Regions from separate parts of the Homo sapiens genome. Here region 1 is linked to region 2. Evidence: fine-mapped expression QTL. A gene starts in region 2. The other region holds a variant in brackets. All regions are shown on one strand. Distances are from middle to middle. Region 1 overlaps PALLD (palladin, cytoskeletal associated protein). Region 2 holds the start of CBR4 (carbonyl reductase 4).

Evidence for each region. PIP is the estimated chance that this variant, and not a neighbour inherited with it, causes the effect.
Region 1: its variant is the best candidate, but not a certain one, in a credible set for the expression of CBR4 in nucleus accumbens (GTEx, PIP 0.69).

Annotation. Positions count from the first base shown.
Region 1 is chr4:168,877,858-168,886,199 of GRCh38, forward strand. The region is part of intron 10 of PALLD (palladin, cytoskeletal associated protein); the gene reads left to right. It also overlaps the pseudogene RNU6-853P. Among named protein-coding and RNA genes, the nearest start is that of CBR4, 130 kb to the right of the region's middle. RefSeq lists enhancers at 1-366, 3,330-3,579 and a silencer at 48-287. The variant C/G (reference allele first, on the strand shown) is at 4,374.
Region 2 is chr4:169,007,109-169,015,450 of GRCh38, forward strand. It overlaps CBR4 (carbonyl reductase 4), which reads right to left and starts at 3,147. Exons shown (of 5, transcript NM_032783.5): 1 at 2,840-3,147; 2 at 528-648. The coding sequence starts at 2,981. CBR4-DT (CBR4 divergent transcript) reads left to right here and starts at 3,321. Exons shown (of 2, transcript NR_185919.1): 1 at 3,321-3,348; 2 at 3,676-3,952. RefSeq lists enhancers at 2,148-3,097, 3,197-3,526.

The DNA of each region.
Region 1 (8,342 bases), 130 kb before region 2:
CGCGGCCTGCACGCCGCCCGCGTCCCCGGAGCCCATGAGCGCGCTGGCCTCCCGCTCCGCCCCCGCCATGCAGTCCTCCGGCTCCTTCAACTACGCGCGCCCCAAGCAGTTCATCGCCGCGCAGAACCTCGGGCCCGCGTCGGGCCACGGCACGCCGGCCTCCAGCCCCAGCTCGTCCAGCCTCCCGTCGCCCATGTCCCCGACGCCGAGGCAGTTCGGCCGCGCCCCCGTGCCGCCCTTCGCGCAGCCCTTCGGCGCTGAGCCCGAGGCCCCGTGGGGCTCCTCCTCGCCGTCGCCCCCGCCCCCGCCACCCCCGGTCTTCAGCCCCACGGCTGCCTTCCCGGTGCCCGACGTGTTCCCACTGCCGCCGCCACCACCGCCGCTCCCGAGCCCGGGACAGGCGTCCCACTGCTCGTCGCCTGCCACCCGCTTCGGCCACAGCCAGACGCCCGCGGCCTTCCTCAGCGCTCTGCTGCCCTCGCAGCCGCCGCCGGCGGCCGTCAACGCCCTGGGGCTGCCCAAGGGTGTCACCCCCGCGTGAGTAACCGCCGCGGTCCTCCACTTCCCTGCCCCTCCGCCTCGGGTCGCCCTGGGACTCCCACATCTCCATACACGCGCTCCCATCAGCCTGCAACCCAGAGCGCCCCAGTAACATTTCACACATTTCTCTCCGTGCGATGTAAAAATTCTTAACGGCAATTTGACTCAGTGATTCTTGCGTAGCCACTTAACATTATCAAAATCAGAACTTTTTCCTCTGAATTAATATGAGATTCTCATCAGGAACTATTCAAAATCTATGCAGTGCCCTCTCTTAATCATTATGGGGGGGGGGGTGCTTAGCTATCATTTATTGAGCACTGTGCTAAGCAACTCACATGTATTATTTCATTTGATACAACATTCCTAAGAGGTAGCATTGCCCCAGTTAAAGTACTGAGGAGTCTAGGAGTTAAATAAATTGCCCAGGGTCACATAGCCACTAAACCGAGACACGAATCCATGCTCTCACCACCAAACTATGTGTTTTATTATAATATTTCATGCCAGCATTACAATGGATGTGAAGGAGTTTGGTTATTAAGTATATACTTAGTGTTTTTGAAAAACCTTAATTAACAGATTTAAGAAATAAGCCTTTGTGTAAATCTAGTGATTGACTGGAAGGGGGCAAAAGCATGTAAATGTCTTTATGTTTTGATGTAGATAAATGAGGGTGTATGCAACCTAGTGGAGAAATTATGATGCCAGTTTTGTCCCTGGCCTGTGACCTCGAGATACATTACATGCCTCCTCTATCTCTTTCTGTTTGCAGGTGATCTAATATGTCTCTCTTTACATCACAGTGATGATGTGGCAGCCCTATGAGGTCTTTAAAATGGAAAATCTTTGAGGATAAATAACACCTACAGAAGTACAGTAAAATCCTCAAAAAAATACAGTACAGGTGTTAGGCATGTTTGGTTGAAGAGTAAAATGAGTAAATGCTAGTACTTACTCATTTTACTGAAGATTTCAAAAATGAGGAAGTGCTCACAAAGGTTAAGCCAGCACCCATATCTCAACTCTTCCTTCTGAAATCCTACTTCAGAGTTTGCCAGAAGCATACTATTGTTCAGAGAGAAAAAGAAGGAACTCTACTAAACAGTAAAAAGGAGAAGATCTTAGAATTCAAGTTATTTTCATTCATCTATAAAAGTGTTCCATTGCTAGGATACACTAATGCCACCTTAAAGGCAAGCATTGCTATGTCGGGCCTCGACAAAGGTGTACCAGGCAGCTTCAGTTAGCAATGCTTCTTTTGTTGGGCACTTCCTAAATGTTGATTACATTAATTTGAAATGTGGCTTCTTCTCAAATCCTTATTGGGTGAAACACAGTCCAATGAATATATAAAGAAACAAGTCCAAAAAAGGAGCCAAATATAGTAATGATGTGATAATGGACTTCTGTTGAAAGTTGTCAGTCAACTTGTCTGAGGAGAACCTTTGTCCTTCTCCCTTGTTTTTTCTCTTTGAGCTTTTATTTAGCTGTTAGAAAAGGAAGTGTATTATCTTGGTACAAAGAAGCTGTTAGAGAGACCCAAAGAGCCAGAGTTTGTTGCATGACACTTTTTCATCCTCTCTCATTAAAAGGGTACCAAGTCTTGCTTCCCAGGAAGAGGAGTACTGTGTAAATAATCTGTTCTAATATTTCTCTTATAGAATTTGATCAAAGATTCGTTTTTCAAAGGTGGTGATGATTGTGCCATTTATCATTTGTAGTAGAAACAGCAGTTTGTGCTGATCAGTGACTTTGAAACCTTCTTAAGATAAGCAAGTTTTAATGGCTTACCTCAAGTAACAGGAGCACTTGCTTCTTGTCAGCATCTATCACAGTGACTCATTTTATGGAGTCAAAATAGCTTATAATTGTTACCACAAGAGTCCAGTCGTTCCTGCCATTTCTTAAAAATTAATGGAGAAGTCGTGCCGATTTTGTGGCCATGGAAAACTGTACCCAAAGATAGTGAAGTGCTGTGACATCAAAGTGGCAATACCAGACTACAGATTTTTAGCTCCATGCCTGCTCAGTAAGCCATTATTATGTGGTTACCGTTTTGTCCTCAAGGAATTTTCCTGTTGCTAAATCACGCATACTTGAAGAATTCATTATTTTGGTTTGATAAATGTGTCTTTTGAAACATGTTTTTCCTCTGGCATACTATGGGATCTGTCATTTGCATTCTGAATTAAAAACAAAAATGTTACTATTTTTGTTTACCATAATAATCCAAATAATTTGCCAAAGATTGAGTGTCCCTATCAGGGCTGCCATGACTTTGGCATCCTGGAACTTGCAGGAACTGCCAAGTTATCATAAGATGTATATATTCAGTTTCACTTATAAGTGTTATTTCTTTAGCTGGATAGTTTTGCCATATATATCAAGTACCAACAAATTGGTTGATTATATGTAACACAATGAAGTAGAAATTCATTAGGTTTTTTTCACTTGCCTTGTTTTACCAAAATCTTAAATGTAAATTTCCAATATCTTAGTTTTCTTTTCTTTTCTTTTCTTTTTTTCTGAGACAGTCTTGTTCTGTTGTCCAGGCTGGAATGCAGTGGTGCAATTGCAGCTCACTGCCACCTCCGCCTCTGGGTTCCAACAATTCATGCCTCAGCCACCTAAATAGCTGGGATTACAGGTGTGGGCCATCACGTCCGTCTAGTTTTTGTATTTTTAGTAGAGATGGGGTTTCACCATGATGGCCAGGCTGGTTTCAAACTTCTGACCTCAGGTGATCCGCCTGCCTTGGCCTCTCAAAGTGCTGGGATTACAGGCCTGAGCCACTGTGTCCAGTCTCTCTTAGTTTGCTTAATCATACTTGTATACTTGCTGTTTTATTCTGTTTGTTTCACACTGTTCTTATTTTCATCTGTAGACAGGAAGGTTAGTAAGTACTAAGTTTCTAAACAGTCTGTGGAGATAAGGTTCTGTTTTTCATATGTTTGGGTAGCAGAGGTCAAAGCAGGGAACAAAGGTCATGGATGTCAGTGATAAACCACAAAGCCGAGGCAAAAGACAGTAAATCTGGGGAAGAAAGGCATTTGAGGAACTGTATGTATAGAAGTTCCCCAGACCGCAGTCAACCAACTGCATGCTGTTCTGTGAGCCGGAGAGAGGTTGACTGCGGTCTGGGGAACTTCTATACATACAGTTCCTCAAATGCCTTTCTTCCTTTATGCTACATCTTCCCCAAATTTACTGGGGTCACTGGCAAAATATTGCCCTGCACAAAGCTGTCAACAGATACAAATATTAAGTTGACAAACTCTTTTAGATGGAGGCAGTAAGGAGAGCATGCCTTAGAGAGAAATCTGTTTGCACTTTTATAAAATTAATGTATTCTATTCCCCTCACTATTGCTGGTAAGTTGGTGTTACAGCCTCCATTGCTGTAACCATGTTTCTCCACATAGTAAATCAGCCCTAAGACACAGAAGAAACCCAGAAGATTTGGCAGTGCCGACAGGCATAGTGTGGCAGTTCTGCTCTGCTGGTCTCTGAGTGGCCATACTAAGTCTGAAGGGTGAATCAGATCAGACCCATCCCTGGAACCAGACTGGCACTGTTTCTTTTGCCATCTTCACATTCTTGGAATCTGTGCTCATAAGGGAGTGCCACATAGCCACAGTGCCACAATGTTGTATGCTCTTAACTACCTCTTTTATATAAGCAGGGCTTTGGTTTGAAATGTTGCCCCATGTTTGTCACAAAGAAGAGCATGTGTCAATAAGAGCTTTTATACAGATGTATTAATGACAGCTTTTATTATATAGGCCCACAGCTCCTTATGGACATTATCTCATTGTCGCTCTCTTTCTCCCT[C/G]ATAGGAAACGGGTAGGTGGGGACACTATCATCGTTACTCAAGAGGTGACGGGATTTCCCAGGGTTCTGGAAGAAATGCCTGAGCAAGGAGAGCATAGCGTGACTTAGGTTCATCTCAAATAACTCTAATGTCTAACATTTCTTGATTAAAGAAAGCTGTTGTAGAAGCAGCAAATCAGAATCCCCGAGTCAAGGAAAACTTTGTAACAAATTTAACTGTACTTTAAGATTCATGACACAGGGCATTTTCACCAGTTTTCAAGTCAAGACTGTGGTTAGATAGTAACCAGTGAAAAAGAATCCAACAGATACAAGCCGCAATGTACTTTGCAGACATCTCATCTACCTATCTTTCTCCTATTTTTCAGGAAACAGATAGTGGGGGGCTTTTCATTCTCTGACCTGAAGGGGTTGGAGGTGTTATTACTGGGCTCATTAGGGTCCAGTATCTTATCAAGTTGTATCCAATCCTGGACAAGTATTTACCAACAAATTAGTAGGCAAGGCCTCCAGGATCTGCTGCGACTGGGTTATTCTGTTGAAATGTCTCTGCCCCTGGGGCAGCTCAAAATCAGACCTGTACGGCTGTGTACCAAGTTGTACAGAATGAATGAACAGAAGTAACCCGAAGCCAGTGGATCACGAGGTCAGGAGATCGAGATCATCCTGGCCAACATGGTGAAACACCATCTCTACTAAAATACAAAAAATTAGCCGGGCATGGTGGTGTGCACCTGTAGTCCCAGCTACTTGGGAGGGCTGAGGCAGGGGAATCGCTTGAACACAGTGGGTGAGGTTGCAGTGAGCTGAGATTGCGCCATTGCATTCCAGCCTGGTGACAGAGCAAAACTCTGTCTCAAAAAAAAAAAAAAAAGTAACCCACGTGCCTTTGTCATTTTCTTTTTTAAAGAACCCAAAATATAATATGAGGAGAATTTGATATTACAATAAAGTTATCTATTTTCCTTTAAATATGAGCTTAAGTTACCCATTTTTTGTACTTTAACAGCCTTTGCTTTACCGTAAAATTCAGTAAAAGGAAAACAGAATTGATATACAAAAGCTCAGTTTGTATATCTTGGGCTCTTTTATATATTAATACATTACATTCTTGAATATAAGTGATATTTAAATGCCAACATGTTAATGAGTTTGCTCACTCTGAAATTTTGTGGAATTTAGTTACCATCAGATTTCACTGAATGTGAGAAGAGTAGAATAAGAGGACTTGTAATAGTTAAATTCTCTGGTTGATTCTGGTACCTTATCTCTTTAATCAATATTGTGCTCTGGAAATTTGAGTTTCTGAAATCTGCTCACAGAATTGACCTGCAATAGCATATCAAGGGAAGGATGCTTTCAAGATTATTCAGTAGCCAAAAAAAGAGACCTCTTGGGATTTGGTGGTGATTGAATCTGGAAAATTTTACCTTCCAGATGCTTGTGTATATGTTTGAGATGTTTTTATCCCAACCACATGAATATTGTTTTTAAATGACAAATGACTTACTGTTAAAGCCAGAGTAAACAGATCAGTAATGTTTTTTGTACAGTTGGGCTGAGTGTGTATACAATGAAGTATTTAGTGCAGGAGGCCTGTTACAAATTGTTTATTGGTTAAGGTTTGCCTCTGAGTATGGATTTTTGTGAAGAGTTCTGGTTTTGGTAACTACTAACTTTGAATACTATTTTATTTTTTTTTAATTGTGCAAACCATCAAAAAAAAAAAGGAGATCATGTCTTTGTCACCACTCTTTTTATTTCCTAATGAGTTGCTACTCTTCATTTATCAAAAGAAGGTGCCACTTCAGGGAGCAGAACTACAACCATCTTACATTAAACTCTAACATAGCATTAGTTTTATAGGAAAACAAACTCAGTTGCCAAATTTTTGCCTCAAAACTTATAACTGCTTTTCTTTCCTCATGCCTCCCCTTTCAAAATACTCCACTTTTATTTCTAACTCTCACCTTGCATGCTACCCCTAAACCCTGTCCTCAACTTTTAATTTCGTAAAGTGTTTCTGAATTACGTTAGTCCAGTGAGATGCTCTGAAAAAGAGAAGAGGTTCCATATTAGAATAAGTGTGAGAAAACTGTATTCCATACCTCTTTCCTCAGGGTTCACAGTGCCCATCCGTTGGCCCTGCCAGGCTGGTTCTGGTCACAGGACCTCTGCACTGCCAAGCTCTCCCTGTAGGTCTCACATAGCCAGCCACTTCCTATGGTTTAGGCCACCACTGTAGAGTCACCTCCTCAGAAGTCTGATGGACCACACTGTCTGATACAGTCATCTGCTCATACTTCTGTCCTTTCATTGCGTTTACCACCTCCTGATATGTCTTGCCTTCCATTCTTTTCTCTTATCTCTTTCTGCCATATCCACCATAAAAATACAATTTTTCTAACTATTGTGACCTAGTTCAACATTGTATTTCTAGCACCTAGAACAGAGTTGAACACTGAGAAGGCAATCAGTAAGGGTTATTTGCACATTCTTGTAAATTCTGGTCAAGAATTCTTGGCATCTTTTTAAACTCCTTCCCCTCTTCCATTCTGTTTATCTCAGCCAATCTTGTCTCTGTGACTTACTTCCATGCTGAATATTTTCTGTTTGCCACTTCAGATCCACTCTTACTACACCAGGCGCTGTTCTAAGTGTTTAGTACACATTAGTTCATGTAGTTTACCCAGTGATCGCATCAGATACGAGCTGTTAATACCCACATTTTACAAAGGAGGAAACTGAGACATATGGTCATTAGGTCACTAGCCCAAACCACACAGCTTTTAAGTGGTTAAAACAAAACAAACAAACAAAAAAACAGGTTATCACGTCTGTTTCTTTATTCACGCTGACTCTGAATTTCTTCTTCTTCTCCACTCTACTTGTCTACATCCTTGTCATCTTTCAAGGGCTTATAACTTGCCTCTTTCATGGAGTCTTCTGCAGTCATTCTAGCCAGCACTGTTTTCTGTTTCTTTTTTATTCCCATTGCATCTAGAATTGGTACCACATGGTTTGCTCCTTAACTTATTCCCCAACTTGGTTATTAGCCTTTGTGATCAAGGACCATCCTTTAGGATGTGGGGGGGTCTTTGCCATCTCACTTAAATAATGTTGAGTGCTTGCTTTGGCAGTGTGAATACTAAAATTGCAATGATACAGAGAAGATTAGCATGGCCTCTGTGCAAGGATGACACACAAAGTCATGAAGTACTCTGTATTTTTAAACCATATAGCCTCTATGAAACTGCCATTTTTGTAAGTTAAAAATGTTCAAATATTAATCGTTGTAAATAATTGCCCACTGGAATGTTTTCTTATTCCCCCTCAAGTTTCAATTTCAAGCACTGACTGCTAAGATTGGCATGTCTCCAGCCACGTACATTTGCAAAAAGTCAGATTTGCAATGTAATATGTCATGGAGCTCATGCTTGTTGAAGAGAATCTTTGATAGGCTGGACACATTCATTTTAGTAGGAGGCAGAGGTGGCCTAACAGCAAACTCTAGGTTCAGGATCTAATTTTCATAGCCTTCAAGGATGAATGCAATATAAACTGTGTAGTAGATTGTGATGCTCATTCCAACTAGGGAGGCAAGCATTTGTACCTGCTATCTACAAGGCACCAAATAATGCATGTGTCACCATTGCTATAAATTGTCCTCTTCCAGGACCTAACTATTTGGGTAAAGAACCTACAGTTCCCATCACCACCTATGTATGTATGTACAAACATAAATTAGTCCAAATTCTAATTTTCTCTTATTTTTCTTTGTGGAAAAACAGATAAGAAAGCTCAGTAAAGGAAGATATAAGCAATTAATGTTACAGTTCTTCAATATAATAATTTGAATTAAATGTACTAAGAAGCAAAAACTATTAGTGTTGAGACTATCATGATGAAGCTTTTGGTTTTTTTAATATATTTTCATTTTTATGCATAAAATCTTAATACATAGAATTC
Region 2 (8,342 bases):
CCTTCTCAGCTTGAGTGGCAAATATTCTTAACCCCTAAAAAGTAGTAACATATAGCCAAAATAGTTTGAATGGCCTGAGCAACTGCCATACTAAGCCTTGTTTAGCAAGAAAATTAATATGTTATCTAAATATTCTCTCCTAAATTCATCTTTTAAAAAATAATATCCACTCCATGATTCTATTAGTATTAAGTTCACAAACTGGCAAAACTTATCTGTGGTGACAAAACTCAGAAAACAGTTACCAACAAGGAAGTATTGAGAAGACACTACCTTCTGGAGCACTGGAAACATTCTACGGCTCAATATGGGTGATGATTACAATGTTAAAATCGACTCAACTGGACATTTATTATATGTTGTATCTCAATATAAAGGAAAATAATTTATGGATTGACAAGTTTTAAAATAGTTTTTTCTCCCAGTTAGAAGCAAAATAAACATATTAACTTATACCAATCAAAGACATATTAGGAATAAAAGTTTTAAATATATATATAAGAAACTTATTTAAATCTGTGACCAACCTGTTAATACCAGCTGCATTTACCAAGAAATTTACTCGACCTAAATGTTTCTCCAGCTCTTCAAATGTATTTTGAACATCATGTTCTTTAGCAACATCACAGCTAAATGCCAAATGATCTCCTACACAACAAAGTTAAATAAGAATTACTTATAACTCAAATTTTAAATTTACTCAATACACATTTGTTAAGCATCTATCTAAGATGGCAGGCCTGTGCTAATCTAGAACCTAAAGATTAAAAAAGTAATGTCATGAGGCCTGGCTTTCATAGAGTTGGTCTAATGAAACTGGGATGCGGGAACAAAGAGGAAATAAAGTACTACTACAGAAAGTTAATTTTAAAATTTTCTTTTTAATCAACAAAGGGGGGAGGGCTTTTTCAAGTTATAAAGGCTCTGTAAGATTCATCTAATATTTATAGCTTTAACACTGAATTCATGCTACCCAATTCGACAGTCTTCTGGGTTTTATATTCCTTTTTTGAAATTTATGTCTAATTCTGTCAGGTTTTTGTTGAATTAGTTTCTTTGGCCCTGAACGGGAACTCTTGGGTTTCTTCTTTTTAAGTGCTACGGATGCACTATGGCACATATATTATAACGACTATTATTCAAACCTGACCATCAGGAGAGATGAGACAACACAGGAAGCTATAAAAATGCTAAAACTACAAACCACGGGGGGAAAAAAACACTTTTTACTAAAAGCAACTGTTACTTACCACTTTTAAAAAATGGTTAAATGCCAAAAAAAAACTACACTTCAAAGGAAAACAAAGCATTCCCTATGTAATCTACCATTTTAATACTCTAAAATGTAGGATTGTTTTTAAAAGCTAAAACAATTCTTTATTTTCTGTCTGACCTTGATAAATATGCTTACACCAACACTACCCCATCAAGCCTTTGGAAACAGTAAGCGACCCGGGGAATTATACTTTCTAGATGAAAACCAATCACTCATGGAACACGATTCAAAGGAATGCAGGGCCCAAAAGCATCCTGTGTCTCTCTTACTCTTGGTTTTCACCCGAAGACTTGTGTCCACAACCACCTTTGAAAGCCCAACTAATGGCTTCAATCCAGTCCAGCAAACACTGATGGCTTGGGGTGACACAGTAAGGGTCACCACTCTTCCCCTCCTTTGTTAGAATGGTAAGGAATATGAGCTTCAAGAAGCATTCACTGACACTCTCCCTGACCTATAACTTACAGAATCTTTTTTCTTTTAGAGAGCCCAATAGTCTCCCAACCAGCACTGAACAGGTGATACCAAACCGATCAATAATGTTAACTTAAAAATGAACAGCCACACCTGGCGTCTATAGTCCCAGGTCCTTGGGAGACTGAGGCGAGAAGATCTCTAGAGCCAGTAAATCAGGAGTTGGGGTCCAGCACGGGCAACATAATGGGAAGCCCTCTCAAAAAAAAAAAAAAAAAACCAGATACACAAAAACAGTAAGAGCCACAAGACGCACCCCTAGGCCTCTATTCTCCCCATGCCTCCCTGATAGTAAATGAAGTATAATTTTGTCCATTCTGGTGATTAAACAAATAGCATCTTCGGATCTAACGTCCTATTTCTCCCTAAACTCAATGAAGAGTTATATTCACAAAATGACTAATCCATTCATAATAAGCCGGAAATAAAAAACCCTGAAGTTTAAATGCAATAAAAAAGAATTTGGCAGAACAAAGTTCAATTGTCCATTTGCAAAACTCACCAAAACAATTTAATAACATTAAAGCAAACCAGGTATATCTCAAAACTGGCTGGTACTCAAAAGGGTTTCTCTATCAAACACTGCTTTGTGCATTCGCGCAGGGCCAAGGCACGGCCCTTGGGCAAAACTGAAGGGAGCCGTTGGTACCTGCACTCCCACCTTTCCTGCCTGAACTCCTTTCGACCCAGCCCTGTCTCCGGGGGCCGAGAACTCGCCCTTTTCCCTACATTAAAAGTAAACTGTTACGTGGCTCTCTCCCACAACAGGGAAGCTCCTCAGCGTTAGCACTAGCCGCAGGGCGGAGGGTGCGTATAGCGGGGCCTCAAAAGACTACGAGGTCTCAAAGAACACCCCAAGTGTTCAGCCCTCGGCGGCAAGCTGCGTGGCCGGCATTCTGCGAGGCATAGGGAGATCGCGGGTTTCTGCACGAGACGCATTCTACCCTTGGAACGGGAGAGCGCCTGCACGCGGCTACATCGAGTAACCCTAGAGCCCTAAAGGCCAGACCCGCTCTTTTTACAAAGGAGATTTTCTTTAGGCGCCTGGACCGCGGCCATACAACTGGACAACTCCAGTTTGGTACCTACCGCCGAGGTCACCGGCGGCGGCTTTGGCCCCTTCCAGGTTTCTGGCAATGACCGCCAGTCGGTAGCCTTTCCGGGCCATTAACTGGGCCACAGCTCTGCCAATGCCTCGGGAGCCTCCAAAAACAGCACACACTTTGTCCATCTCGGAGTCACAAACTCGGAGGAAAGAGGGTAGGGAGTGGGAGCCCCTCTCCAGGTTCCCTCAGGCTTTTAAACAACCGCGGTTCCAAAAAAAAAAAAAAGAAAAAAAAAGGCAAACCGCAAAAAAAAATAACGCCGCTCGACACCTCCTGCAGCCGCACAATAGTAATGCAAGACGCCGTGAAAAGGAGGAAGAGCTCGACGTCGCCGCGTCGACGTCATCACGCACGGACTCTTCCGCGCCACACCTAACAAATACGCCGACGAGAGCTCCCCGCCGGCGGAAGAATGGCCTGGAGAGGGCCTCGATGCTTGCTGGGACCTGTAGTCTTGACGCATGAGAGCAACTGGCGCAGGCGCGCTGCTCGGTGGGGAATGTACTTGTGGCACTGAGGGGGATCCTCTGTCCCCGCTGGGTCATATCAGTCGGGATTCGAGCCCCGGTGACCAATCGACCCGGTTTGTTCGGAACTGACAGGGTTGTCAAGACGCTGGGCTTTCCCTGGCAAACCAAGACGACCTGATCACGTAGTTAGAACCCAGAGAAAGCATTACTGGGCGTGAGCCGGTCGGGGCTCCGGTATTTGCCCTTCGCCCAGGTGTTGTTTTGGCTACAGACTTGATGTCCTACCTGTTGAAGAAGTCCCCAAGAATCGCACCCACACCAAAACCTACCCTACCTGTTCCTCCCCCAGGTTGCTGTAGAAATGGACCTCTACCCGCCCAGATGTTACCATTCATCGCGAAGGGTGTCGTGAAGATGAATGCCCTGTCGAACATCATCCAGCAGGAGGTCAAGGAATTTTAACTGAATGATTGAATAGTCTTGCAAGATCTATGAAACAAGCTTCGGCTGCTGTAGAGAAACAAAAATGGGTTCCTGCAATTCTAAATAAGATGTACTGGGTGCTCTGAGAGTTAATAAGCTAAAAAATTCAATGTTTGTTACAATTATAGTGTAAACAGAAAGCATTTCTGATACAATATTATTTTACTAGATTCAGAAAAGTATGAGCCATGGTCCCTACCACTAAAAAAACTACAACCCAGAACTACAGGACTAATACACATGAAACACTAGGAGGTATCCAAAATCATACTTAGTAAAATGCAAAATTATATTAACACAAGAGCTCCGAGAAAATGGAGATCAGTGAAGAATGAAGGGGTGCATGGAAAAGCTGGATTTGAGGGCTGGATGAGGTTTGAAAAAAGGAAAACAAGAGCAAAAAGTCTATAAATAAGCAAGTTGAGCATTAATTTAAATTTGTTATTCCTATTCCATTTAGATCCAAAAAAAGATTTGAAATGGTTTGCAAAAATACATGAGTATTTGAATTTAAAAGGCAAAGAGGACCACTGCCCCTTCTCCCACAAGGCCAGAACAATAAATTAGGTCAGTGGAAAAAATACGAATAAAGTCATGCTATAAGAATCTATTTAGTATTAAAGAAGAGATTCATAAACTTAGAGTTTCCTGCCAGCGAAAGCAACAAAGGAAATATAATTACAAGTGGTAATTTCTGTAAGAAATCAGCCTCCTGGTTATGCAGCAGAGAAGCCTGAGCAAAACTCCCTCCTCATAGGTCCTCCTAAATGGCACACTAAGCATTGTAGTAGACAGTGAGCTTCATGAAAAGAAAAAGAGATTGTAAGGCTGTTTTCATAGCATCTATTAGACTTTATTAAAAGCAAATACAATAGGAAGTTAAACAATATAAGCAAACAGTCACACATAAAAATTGTGTCTTTGAAACAATATATGTTTGAAACAATGAGGAAACAAGCCTGAGGAAATTTGGGATGGTGCTATATTATAGTCAGCTTTAAAGTCAGGTGCCAAGCATTAAACAGGCCTTTAACTGCAGAAGTAATAAGATAAGAGCTGCATTTAAGAACTATTAGCAGGCCAGGCGTGGTGGCTCATGCCTGTAATCCCAGCACTTTGGGAGGCTGAGACAGGAGGATTGCTTGAGTCTAGAAGTTCAAAACCAACCCAGGAAACACAGCAAGACCCCCACCCCCCCGACCCCCATCTCTACAGAAAATACAAAAAAAAATTAGCTGGACATGGTGGCCTACCTGTGGTCCCAGCTACTCGGGAGGCTGAGTTGGGAGGATCATGTAAGTCCAGGAGGTCAAGGCTGCAGTGAGCCATGATTGCACCACTGCAGTCCAGCCTGCATGACACAGCAGGACCCTGTCTCAAAATAACAGTGTTCTAAAAAACAAACAAACAGTTTCCCAGTGATGTAAAAATGGGTCAGATCAAATTTGTCTATTCACTTTCCTACTATACACTATGCAATCTTGGAAAGAAAAAACTGTTTTACATAAATTACCAATATAAGGGTCAGCCTAAATGCCAACTGTATTCCTGCACCTTAGGTCAAACCAGAGAGGTTTATCTTTTGAACAGTTCTCTCCATTTGCTAGGAAAATGATTATTTTTTTTTCTACACATTGTTATTTTAGCAAAAAAAAATGGTTTTTAGATCTATGCCATCTATCATGAAGATCACTAACACATGATATGAGGTGACATTCAGAATTCTGAAAACCTTCCAACTTTTCTCACTGTATATATACTGTAAATGGATAAGCTGGGCTTTTTATTCAACACATACCTCAGGTTAAACCTCAAGGTTATTATTTATTTTTTTTCCCTCTTAATACAATATCACCACTATCCCGGGTGAGAATACATCTATCACAGCACATCACCCATTAGCTGAGAAGGTTACAGCAGGGGAAGTTTCTCTGTAAGCCCCTGATAGTGAAGTGAGGATCTGTAAATTAAACTGGGTCTCCCCTACCCAGCAGGACATTGAAGGAAGCCATTAGAATGACCCACCTTTAGTCTTTCCTTCTCACTAAACATGCCACTTTTGTGGTAATATTTTAACCATATGTTATACTTTAACTTAAATCCACATAGGATATATTTTCTCTTGGCTCCCACAATCGAAGGAGAAAATTCCTTATGTATAAGGACTGTTATACAAATTTTTAAATATGCATACCTAGTATTACTTTTCTGATTACAAAAGGAATACCATTTAATTGCTAACAGTTAGAAAACATAAACTTTTTAAAGTAAATAAAAACTCATTGAAAGCATTGTACACTTTAAGCGTGTGAATTGTATCGTATGCAAATTATATCCCAATGGAACTGTTATTGAAAAAGATGTAATTTAAAGCCTACTGCCCTGTTATACGAAATTTGAATCTGCAACTAATTATAAGGGGGTTGTACCTTTCATGAATATTTTTTTCATACGTCAAGATTTATAATGCCCAAGATTCCAAATATGCAGGAAAATTTATTTATAAGAAATTTATGAATTATGATTGAATATTCATTGAGAATCCTCTTTACAAATGCACCATACTAAGCACATCCAGCTTATCAGATCCATAATTGAAGCATAACCCTTCCTGCCAGCAAGCAGTCTCCCAGGATTCTTCAGGCAGTGATGATAATCTGCACGACCCAAATTGCATGTGGCCAGCTAACTTCTCCATACAGACCATGCTCTTCTTTCAAGAAGAAAGATTAGAAAGCTGCCTTAGTGTGGCTGCACAGATATAACTTTTATGATTAAAAAGCATGTTGATTTCCTCATTGGCATTCTTGTATCCAATCTGCTGGGTAATCTAAATTGTAAGGAATGTACTTTTTATCACTTACAAAAGTTTATTTCATTTTGATTGGGAACAAAAAATGTGGCCCATGAGCTTGTTATTTTGTTGAATTGGCGTTTATGCCTCTGAGGCTGCCCACCGAGACCTAAACCTGGCACTCAGTTGCCTAAGGCAGAAGCATGGAGTTTATTCCTTCCCTCTCTCAACATCCCACATCCAATCAGTCACAAAGTCCTGCTGATTCTACTCCCTAAATACCATTCCAACTTCTACACATCCATGCTTCTCCAAACACTGTCTTCTCAACCTCGAATGCTCCCACTGCTTTCCCTGGTAACATCTGATTTATCATTCAAAATGTGGCTCAAACATCTCTTGCAATGGAAGCTTCTCCTGACCCAAAGGAGGACATGCTGATGTCCTTCTTTACCCGTCCTCTTACCTTGTATGTGTCTTCAAGTCTGTATTTCATGGAGTTACTGTGACGTCAGAATCCACATAATTTTAGGAAGATAGTGAATAGATTCTCAAGGATCTGTGAACCTACCAAGCTGAATACAAAATCTCATGTGCTTTTTAGATGAGTAGCTTCTTGAAAGAGGGTCCACTTCCTTCACTGGGTTCTCAAGGGGAACTTTCACCTAAAATGGTTAAGTGCCAGGTGTAGTGGCTCACGCCTGTAATCCCAGCATTTTGGGAGATGGAGGCGGCAGGATCACTTGAGCCCAGGCATTTGAGACCAGCCTGGGCAACATGGTGAGACCTCATCTTTTTTAAAAAAACATAAAAAATAAAATAAAATGGTTAAAAACTTTCTGTTTTTAATTGCCAACTCTTTGAATCCAGAAATGATCACATTGGTTTTTGTTTCCCTGTTTGTAGCACAGTTCCTAGGGCTTGTGAATGCTAAATAAATGAGTTAACAAATGAATCAATGAGTGAATGAAATAACTCACTTAAAAGGAATTTATTGCTATAAGCAAGAACCAGTGTCGATACAGCTATGATTAAGATAGACCTGGTGCCTGTTTTCGTTGGGAAAATAATCTGGCAAGGAAGACAGACATTAAACAATTAATCATGCCATCACTATTTAATTCCAATGGTGGGAAGAACTATAAAGGAGAAGTACAGGCTGCTAGGAGGGATCATAACTAGGGGCATTGATCCAATATGGAGGCCTGGGGTCAGAGAAGGCTTCTTCTTTCAGGACATAATGTTCTATAAAGTAAATGAATAATAACAAAGAAAGATTGCAAAGAATGATAACTACAGCTACTATCCATTCATTATGTTACAAAGCCAACTAGGTGATAACATAATTTATACATGAAGAATAAAATTCTGAATTAAAAATTCACCCTTAATAATGAAAGAGATTGTTAGTCAAAGTAGAGTTAGTATTACGCCTAGATGAGATCACAGGTTGGACATTTCACCAGGAAGTACCATGGGAGAGCATAATGCCTGAAATTTTATGAAACTCTTTTTTTTTTCCCAGCCAAAAATTTTATAATGGTATAAAGCCAGCTCTGGATACTTAAAATCAGGCCCCAAATGCAGCACGCCTGCCAAGCCACATAGAAGAGGAGAACTCAGTGTTCCTGAAATTAGTTTTAAGACTGGCCTCAATCCTCTGACCCCAGCCTCTCACTATTCCATTTCCATCTCTTTGTTTCAGGGCCTTCCCCCCTCTATCCTTCTGGCTGCATAGT